Regions from separate parts of the Homo sapiens genome. Here region 2 is linked to region 1. The links come from fine-mapping of genetic effects on gene expression. A gene starts in region 1. The other region holds a variant in brackets. All regions are shown on one strand. Distances are between the middles of the regions.

The links.
Region 2: its variant is fine-mapped to the expression of ZBTB34 in whole blood (INTERVAL, PIP 0.94).

The regions. Positions count from the first base shown.
Region 1 is chr9:126,858,521-126,863,520 of GRCh38, reverse strand. ZBTB34 (zinc finger and BTB domain containing 34) reads right to left here and starts at 2,882. Exons shown (of 2, transcript NM_001099270.4): 1 at 2,782-2,882. RefSeq lists silencers at 2,364-2,583, 2,694-2,743, 2,754-2,833, 2,864-3,263 and an enhancer at 1,942-2,739.
Region 2 is chr9:126,907,456-126,912,623 of GRCh38, reverse strand. No RefSeq gene overlaps it. Among named protein-coding and RNA genes, the nearest start is that of RALGPS1, 4.7 kb to the left of the region's middle. The variant A/T (reference allele first, on the strand shown) is at 2,808.

The DNA of each region.
Region 1 (5,000 bases):
GAACATTAACGGGAATAAAACGTAACTAGATTCATGGTACTGACATTTTAGACAAGTGCTTCAAATGGAAGGCAAAAGTGGGGGGACACAGCGGTGCAGAAATCCAAAACTCAGTAGGTACACAGTTCAGCAGCTTATCATTTCTCCACCTTGATAAATGTACACCCAATAATGACAATAACAATAATGAAAATGTACTAAGCAGTTACTAGGTGCTGCACATTTTTCTACTTCGTTCCATTTTCGTTTACAGTTCATTGGATTTTATTATCCTCCACACTGCAAATAAGAAACGGAGGCTCAGAGGCATTAGATAAATTGCTCAACTTCACAGAGCTGGTAAGCAGACTTGCTAGGATTCAAACCCAGGTCTCTGATTCCAAAGCTGCTGTTCTTTCCCCACAGCCTCCGAATGAAGAATCACATGACTTTTACCTTTTCCCATGATCAGAGGGAAACGTTTCAAAGTTTCAAAGATTCGTTTTGTGCTTTCTGCACCCTAAGAGAGCAAGCTGAAAACATCCACCTTGAATGGTAGCATTACATATCACTTATCTATGACACAGAAAGCTGATAAAAACAGATTCTCCTTAAAAAAAAAAAAAGGCAAATTACAAAACAAAACAAAAAGTTGTTTACCAACAAAAATCAGGAAGTATTTGAGTACCTATTATAGAAGTCCAGCCCCAGTATTAGATACTATAAGGTCTCCGAGAGGAGTATTAAGACACAATGCCCTTAAAAAAACTCCCACTCCAGTTGGGACAAGAACAAGTTCAACAGCCAAGGAACAAGTGCTGAATCCGAGTGCCACAAAGCCATGGGGGCAGGGAAGTCAGGGAACACCCTCTGGAGGAAGTATATCTGCAGCAGGGGCTTGAAGGAAGTGAAATGGAGAATTTGCACAGAAAAGAAAAAGGAGGCCAGTGCTTCAGAAGGGGGAACAACAGAAGCAAAACCCAAGAAGCCGTAACTAACTCAGTTCTGCAGGGGACAGACTTGGAGAAGCAGAGAATAAGGTTCAGGTAGGTGGGGTGGGGCCAAACCACGGAGAGTCTTGAAAAGACAGGGTGGGCGGTGGCTGGACATACCGTGGCAGGCAAGAGGCCACTACTCAGCTTTGAACAGTGGTATAACTGCCGTGGCCTCTTAACTGATCTCCTGGCCTCTAGCTTCTTCACCAATGCCTTCAGTAGTTTCAACTTTGACCTAGTGTTTGAGTTGAGGAACTAGCCGCGGCCCACCTCTCCTCCTACTTCCCTCCTATATGAACCCTTCTCTGCCAGGAGACTGGTCTATTCACTAACTCCATAGGATCACTGGGCCTGATTCCTCTTTTCCTATCTGAATGCTACTCATCCTTTAACACCCGGCTCAAATCCCGCCCCTCACTAAACCCTCCCTAACCACTCGGCCTACAGTGACCTCCATCTCTCCTTCTTAATTCTACAGCACACAGCCTTGTCTCATCAAAATTACCTTTTCATAAGTAATGTCTCAGCACCCTGTGTAAAGCTGCCTGGAGACTGTAAGTGTGCCTTCTACTACTTTCCCACCACATGGAACAGCATCTTGCCATTTAATAAGCAAGCAAGCACTCAACTATTTTTTGACTTCCTATAGTAAGTTTGGCTTTAGCATAAAGGAAGGATGGGGGAGGGGGGAACCTCTGGAGTCAGCGACCAGCTTAGAAGCTGTTGCAATAATCCAGATGTGAAGCAAAGAGGGCCTGGACTAGGGAACAAAGAGAAAATGGGCAAATATAAACAACAAAAAATTCTGCATGCAAAAACTCGGCGGAATGTGATTAACTACTACTAGGGACAAAAGCAAGGGATGAATGAGGATTAAGGTGAGGTTTAGAAAACGCTTCTTGAAATCATTTTAAAGCCTGTCTGAAACAAAATGCAGTAAGTGGCTTAAAAAGTCCACACTGACAAAGTCTTCAGCGAAACTGCCCAGTATCTTGAATCAGGGACAGCCCTTCCAATTTGAGACATACACGGAATGGCAGAGCCAGAAGGGTTCTTAGAGAGTTAAATGAAACCCTCAATGATCACATGGGGAAACTGAGTCCTAGCATGGAAGGGGCTTGCGGAAGGCCTCAAGACAGAGACTCCCAGACGAGTGCCGCCCTGAAAGCACAGCCACTTGGCCTAGAAGGGCACTGTTTACAACCCCGGTCAGCCCCAGCCCAGCCCTCCGCAATGGCAGGACCAACTGAGCGCGAGTGGCCACGGAGACGTCTGGGGCCAAGCGCAACCCGTCGCCGCCGCCTGTTTACCTGGAGGAAGGCGGTGGCGTGAGGCAGCGGCTCCGTGGCAGCCACCCGAAGGGCCGACCCCTGGCCCGGCCGGCTCTCCAGGGAACTCAACCATCTGCCCTCCCTCCCCGTACAAAAGGGAGCGCCCCCAGGGCTAGGGGCCCGGAAGCTGGGGATCCCGAGACGCCCCGGGCGGAGGCTGGGAGCCCAGGGCAGCTGCCCGAGCGCGACCCTCAGCCGGGCCAGCGGCGCCGGGACTCCAGGACCGAGCACAGCTGGCCCCTCGGGGACGCGCGCCTGACCCCAGCAGGTGCCCGGGGCCTCCGGACCCCGCCCGGCCTCGGCTCCCGCCCGCGCCGGCCGCCTGCCCGCGGGACTGACCAGGCGCGGAGGCTCCCGCCCCGCCGCGCCCAGAGGGAGCCGGACAGCGGCCCGGGGACTGCCCCCCGCCCCGCCTGCCCCGCCTGCCCCGCCCGCGCCTAGCCCGCTGCTCGCCGCCCCCGGCCAGCGTGCCTCACCTGTCCAGAGCGCCGCGCTCACATCGCCCGCCCGCGGCGCCCCCTCCGCCGCCGCCGGCGCCAGGCCAGTCCCCGCCGCTCCGGCTGCCGCCCCAGCCCGCGCCCCCCGCCCCCGGAAGCGCTTCCCGGCCCCGCCCCCTGGACGCCCGCGCTTCCGGGCAGGCGCCAACCCGGGTGGTGGCGTTGCGCGGCGGACCTCTAGCCAGGGCCCGGGGTCCTGAGTCCCGCCCGGTTGTCGTCCCAGAGCCTCGCCGCGGGCTAGCGGCAGCCTTGGTCTGGACCCCGGAGTCCCGACTCCGGGAAGCGGCGTCGGCTCTGCCTTCAGCCCGCGCTCTCCTCGGCGCCCCCTGCTGGCGGGAGAAGGGCGGTGCAGTGGGGCGCGTTTCAGGGGCTCCCGGAATCGAACGGGTGGGAGAGAGCCCAGGACCCTCGACCCCCCCAGCACTGGGGGGCCTGCCCCCAGCCCAGCCCTCCCTTCCAAGACCCTCCCTCCTGCATCTCTTCAGGCGCATGCCACGCACCCGAGCTGCTCCTGGCAGGGCAGCTGAAGGCAGCAAGGTGCAGTGGTTAGCAGCAGGGCTCTGGGGACCTGTCATAGGGGGTCTCTTGACTTACCACCTTGGGCAGGTTTTCTCTCTCTCAAAACGGAGGTGGCTCCCGCCTGTAATCCCAGCACTTTGGGAGGGCGAGGCGGGAGGATCACTTGATCCTAGGAGTTTGAGACCAGCCTGGGCAACATAGGGAGGCCCCATTTAAATTTTTAAAACTTAGCCAGGCTTGGTGGCACATGCCTGTAGTTCCAGCTATTGGGGAGGCTGAGGTGGGAGGGTCGCTTGAGTCCGGGAGGTCGAGGCTGCGATGAGCCATGATCGTGTCACTGTACTTCAGCAGTGGTGAAAGAGCAAGACCCTGTCTCAAAAACAAAACGGAGGTGAAAATTCCCAACTCACTGTTATAAAACCCATGTCACAGAGCATGCCTCAAAAAATGTGCATTTCCAGACCCTTGGGGACACCCCAGTCTTCAAACCGTTGGGTGGGAGTGGGAGCCTCACCCAGCGTTTTCCTCCCAGCATTAGACCAATGTAACACTCTTTGAAGAGCTTCCCTTTGCATTTTGGTGGAGTCAGTAGTTGTGGCAGAGGTTTATTTTCCTTTTTCTGGCTTTGTAATAAAAATAAACTAGGAGGCAAAGATACCAGCTCCTCTTCAGGATAGAAAGCTGCTGAGACTTCCTGATGTTACTTCATCCTTTGCAAGCAGGAACTGTCTCTCCAGGATCTGTCCAGTGGTCATCCTCCAATAGCAACAGCTACCCTTTGTCAAACACTCCATGCAGGGCACTGTGTAGACACTTGACAGCCATGACCTCATTTAACACAACCTAAGGAGGTGGCGATCTATTCCCATTTTAATCCAAGAGGGAACTGAGGCTCAGAGAGGTTGAGTGACTTATCCAAAGTCACACAGCTAGTAAATGGCAGACTTGGGATGAACTCCCTTGTCTCTCTGACTTCTTATAGCAACAGAACATCCAAGCATAGGATTTTAGGCAACCTGCCTATAACTGCAGGCACCTGGGCAGACAGGTAGTCTCGCTCTTGAATTGCTATTGCACTTGAGTTGTTTTCTTGAGATCTGTCCCCAAGGGTGAGATACGTGTGCACCCAGGGCACAGGAATACATCATCTTGTCAGGTTTCCTCCGGACTGCTGAGCTGATTCTTATGCCCAGAGGTTTTCCTACAGATCAGCCTTGGGCCTCATCATTTTAACTGATTTTTGCTAAATTCGTTGATAAGAGTTAGGGTCTTCTTGGCTGTGACACAATATTTGCATATCATTAAGTACTATAAAGACTAAAATAGTTCCTGAGTTTTTGACCCTCCTCTGCCAAGTGTCTCAAAGTTGTTGGCCCTCTGTCTGTCCATTGGATGCTGGGTATTTCCCTCATAGTTTATATTTACTCTCCCACCTAACTGGGTCACCAAACTCATCATTTATATATTTTTCCAGCCCCTTGCTTTTTTCGTTCTTGTTGTTTAGCTGATTGTCATGGTCTCTACTAATTTTAGTTAAAAAACTGTCACTCCTCCACAGTTGAGGTGCATATGTGTTTCTGTTTTCCCATAATCTTTGTGGCAGTTTTAAATGATTTAACTCGTTAGCTCCCTTGAAATCAAGAAGTCTAGGGAGTGATGTACAAGTCTCATTTTAATTT
Region 2 (5,168 bases), 49 kb before region 1:
GCATCTATACTTTTATTATGCTTATGCATACTTTCTAAGTTTTTTCAATGAACACAGATTCTTTTGTGATATATTAGAAGTTATTATAAACCCAATTTTAAAATGAGGAAAGGTCATTTAATATTGATTCTTGATGCTTCCAGAAGGATGTATTCATTCTTTCTACAAATATCTAATGGTTCTCTGCTATGCGCCAAGTGCTACTGTAAATGCTGAGAAAACAGCAGTGAATAAAAGAGACAAAAATTCTTGTCCTCGTGGAGTTGACATTCTAGTGGGGTAAGGCAGCTATTAAAATCAATATTTACAGTAGTAGGCTAGATAGAGAAAAGTGCTATGGGAGTAAAATGAAGCAAGGAAGAAGGGAGTTCAACGTTAAAGAAGACAGAAAAGTTTAGATGGTGATAAGCGAGAAATAATAGGTTTCTTAAAGCAATAAAGCCAAGTGCAGTCTGAGAAAGAGAGAGAGAGAGAAGGATCTGAATAGACATTTCTCCAAAGAAGATACACAGTGGTCAATAAGCACATGAAAAAGTGCTCAATATCATTAGCCATTAGGAAAATGCAAATCAAAACCACAATGAGATACCACTTCACACCCATTAGGATGGCTACAACAAATAAGATAGACAATAACAAGTGTTGATGAGAAGGTGAAGAGAATAGAACCCTTGGCTGGGCGTGGTGGCTCACGCCTGTCTCCCAAGGTGGGTGGATCACCTGCGGTCAGGAGTTCAAGACCAGCCTGGCCAACATGGTGAAACCCCATCTCTACTAAAAATACAAAAAAATTAGCTGGGTGTGGTGGCAAGTGGCTATAATCCCAGCTGAGGCAAGAAAATCACTCGAACCTGGGAAGTGGAGGTTGCAGTGAGCTGAGATGGCGCCATTGCACTCCAGTCTGGAGGACAAGAGTGAAACTCCCTCTCAAAAAAAAAAAAAAAAAGAGAGAGAGAGAATGGAACCCTTATACACTGCTGGTGGAAATATAAAATGGTACAACCACTTTAGAAAACATAGAGTTAGCATATGACTCAATCACTCCACTCCTACTTACCACCCAAGAAGAAATGGACACAACATGTCTGCACAAAAACTTGTAGACAGGTGTTCACGGCAGCATCATTCACAATATCAAAAAATGTGAATAACCCAAATGTCTATCAAGTGATGAATAGATAAATAAAATATGGTTTGTCTATACAAGGAAATGAAGTACTGATGCATGCTACGACATGGATGAAACTTAAAAACATGCTAAGCGAAAGAAGCTAGACCACGTATTATATGATCCCTTTTATATGAAATGTCCGTAATAAGCAAATCTATAGAGATGGAGGGTAGACAAAGTGGCTGTCTAAGGCTGAAGGAGAGGAGGATTTAGGGGCAACAACTTAGGAGTTTCTTTGGAAGAGGATGAAAGTGTTCTAAAATTAATTGTGGTGATGGTTGTAAAACTCTGAATATACTAAAAGCCATTGAATTATACTCTCGCTCTTTTTTTTTCTTTTTTTCTCTTTCTTTTTCTTTTCTTTCTTTTTTTTTTTTTTTTTTAACAGTCTCACTCTGTTGTGCAGGCTGGAGTGCAGTGGCACGATCTCAGCTCACTGCAGCTTCTGCCTCCTGGGTTCGAGCAATTCTCCTGCCTCAGCCTCCTGAGTAGCTGGGACTGCAGGTGTATGCCACCACACCTGGCTAATTTCTGTATTTTTGTAGAGACAGGGTTTCGCCTTGTTGGCAGTCTGGTTCTGAACTCCTGACCTCAAGTGATCTGCCCGCCTCGGCCTCCCAAAATGCTGGGATTACAGGCATGAGCCACCATGTCTGGCCGAATTATACTCTCTAAGTGGGTTAATTATATCTCAATAAAGCTTTTTTTTTTTTTTTTTTTTGAGACGGAGTCTCATTCTGTTGCCCAGGCTGGAGTGAGGTGGCACAATCTCGGCTCACTGCAACCTCCGCCTCCCGGGTTCAAGTGATTCTCCTGCCTCAGCCTCCCAAGTAGCTGGGACTATAGGTGGGTGCCACCACACCCGGCTAATGTTTTGTATTTTTAGTAGAGACAGGGCCAGGGTGGTCTCGATCTCCTGACCTCATGATCCGCCCGACTCGGCCTCCTAAAGTACTGGGATTATAGGTGTGAGCTACCACACCTGGCCAATAAAGCTATTTTTTAAAGTTATTGTTGGCCAGGCGCAGTGGCTCACACCTGTAATTCCAGCACTTTGGGAGGCCAAAGCAGGCAGATCAACTGAGGTCAGAAGTTTGAAACCAGCCTGCCCAACATGGCAAAACCCCGTCTCTACTAAAAATACAAAAATTAGCTAGGTACAGTGATACATGCCTGTAGTCCCAGCTACTTGGGAGGCTGAGGCAGGAGAATCACTTGAACCCAGGAGGTGGAGGCTGCAGTGAGCCAAGATCACACACCACTGCACTCCAGCCTGGGCAATACAGTGAGACTCCATCTCAAAAAATAAATAAATAAATAAAATGAAGTTATTGTAAAGTCTGGTCAATCCCATCATTCCCATGCTTAAATATGTGTAACAGGATGTGGAGAGGATCTTAGCTGTGCCCACTAGAGTTCACTGTCAAAGTGTGATGTGCTGGTGAAATGGGCACATTCTTAGTATCTGATGTGTTTGAGTCACTCTCCATGAGGGAAAGGAACTTTTGAGCCACAGGAGGAAAGGAGGATTGGAGAAATCACCAAGGGTCAAGCCTCAACCCGGCTGTCTTTGCACAAACTTATACTTCATGGAGAGCCAAACTTGGGAAGGTTCAAGGAGTTGTTCTCATTAGAG[A/T]TGCTGACCCATAAGGAAGGTGTGACAGACAGACTCTAAGGTGTCCCCATAATGCCCACCTCATTATGTCCCTGCCCTTGTGTGGGCAGGACCTGACTTGCTCCTAGCCAATAGAATGAGCCAAAGGCTTTAGGAGGTATGTGATTGCATTACAGAAAACTGTAACCCATCTTGCTAGGAGACTCTCTTGCTGGCCTTGAAGATCTAAGCCACCATGGTGTGAGCTGCCCTATAGAGAAGACCACGCAGCAAGGAACGGAGGGCAGGCTCCAGCCAACAGCCAGCAGGAAACTGGGGGGGCCTTTGGCCGAGCACGGTGGCTCACACCTGTAATCCCAGCACTTTGGGAGCCCGAGGCGGGCAGATCATGAGGTCAGAAGTTCGAGACCAGCCTGACCAACATGGTGAAACCCCATCTCTACTAAAAATACAAAAATAAGCCGGGCATTGTGGCACACACCTGTAATCCCAGCTACTCAGGAGGCTGAGTTAAGAGAATCACTCGAACTCAGGAGGCAGAGGTTGCAGTGAGCCGAGATTGTGCCACTGCACTCCAGCCTAGGCGACCCAGTGAGACTCCGTCTCAAAAAAAAAGAAAGAAAGAAAGAAAGAAAGAAAGAAAGAAAGAAAGAAAGAAACAATGAATCTGGGGCCCTCAGCCCAGCAGCCTGAAAGGAACAGAATGCTGCCAATAATCACATGAGCTCAGAAGCAGATCCTTCAACTGTTGAGCCTCAGATGTGACTGCAGCCACAGCCAACACCTTGATTATAGCCTGTGAGACTCTGAAGAAGAGGGCCTAGCAAAGCTGTCCCTAACCTATAGAAACATTGAGATAATAAATGTGTGTTATTTTAAGCTGCCACATTTGGGATAAAATTGTTACACAGCAAAAGATAACTAATACAGGCCATAACCCACTCTTTTCTGTTGCCTAAGAGGTAGCTCCTGCTCAGAGGCCATCAACACCCAGGTGTTATAAGGATTCTGGAATAAAGTATCCTCCAGATCCTGGTGGCTGGTATCTCTGGGGGCATCAGAAGACAGAAAATAGGGCGCAGGAAAGAGCACTGTCATTAGGGACACAGGTGCTTTTCCTGTGCACACAGGTACAATGGTGAGGTGCCACCAAGGGGCGTCAGGGAAAGCAGGCATCACTATGGGAAGCAGGAAGGAGGTGGAAGAATAGGGACTGAGAGTGAAATTTTGAATTTGGTCAGTTCTAGGAAACGATCTTGGCTTTTCCATTCCCATCTATGTGGCCTTGGACAAGTGTCCAAAGCTCTTTATGCCTCGGTTTTCTCATTTCTGAGAAGATAATATCCAGAGTACCTATCTTACAGGGTGCTCCTGAGGAAAAGTGAGTTAATCCTATAGTGACCATGAGTATGCACCTGGCAGACTTCCAACTATAGGGAGGTTATTTGACCAAGGGCTCAGCTTCTGCACTCTGAAATCCATCAAAGCATTGGCACCAAAGCCATGTTACCCATGGGCTGCACCCAATGACTGACCATGGCAGGAATACTAAGGCAGGCCTGGCCCCGGGTGACAATGGGAGTCCTCTGGTGATAGATAATCTTTGGCTCAAAGACAGCCCGACAGCCTTGCTGACGCTTTGTTGGACTGTGTGGCAGTATGGGATGCTTCCACACACTCCCTTCCCTCTCTCCTTTACTTGAGGTCAGACTTGATTCACAGTCTGCTGGCTCTCTCAACCCATTTCCCCCTGATAAAATCCTTGCACGTTTTTTTGTTTTTTTGAGACAGAGTCTCACTCTGTCTCCCCGACTAGAGTGCAGTGGTGCGATCTCAGCTCACTCAACCTCCGCCTCCCGGGTTCAAGCGATTCTCCTGCCTCTGCCTCCTGAGTAGCTGGGACTACAGGCGTGCACTGCCACGCCCGGCTAATTTTTGTATTTTTAGTAAAGACGGGGTTTCCCCATATTGGCCAGGCTGGTCTCGAACTCCTGACCTCGTGATCTGCCCGCCTTGGCTTCCCAAAGTGCTGGAATTACAGGCGTGAGCCACCACACTCAGCCAATCCTTGCATGTTTAATTCTGTTATGGCACCTGCTCCTTAGTGAACCTGGACAGACGCAAGAAGCCCCAGGAATAGGCAGTGAAAATAGGTGGTGAGATGTGGATTTGGGATGATTCACCCACTGCTCAATAGGCAAAGAGAATACCCTCCTGCTGGAGCACAGATAGTCCCTGGAACAAGGTGGTGGCTCACATGCTAAAGATTTCACTGACAGCAACCTGGGAAAAGACCCCCATGGAGGAGAATGCTGTGCTGGGCACATATTTTCCAGAGTCTGAAAAATATGGGGAGAACAATGTGGACAAAGACAGAGGAAG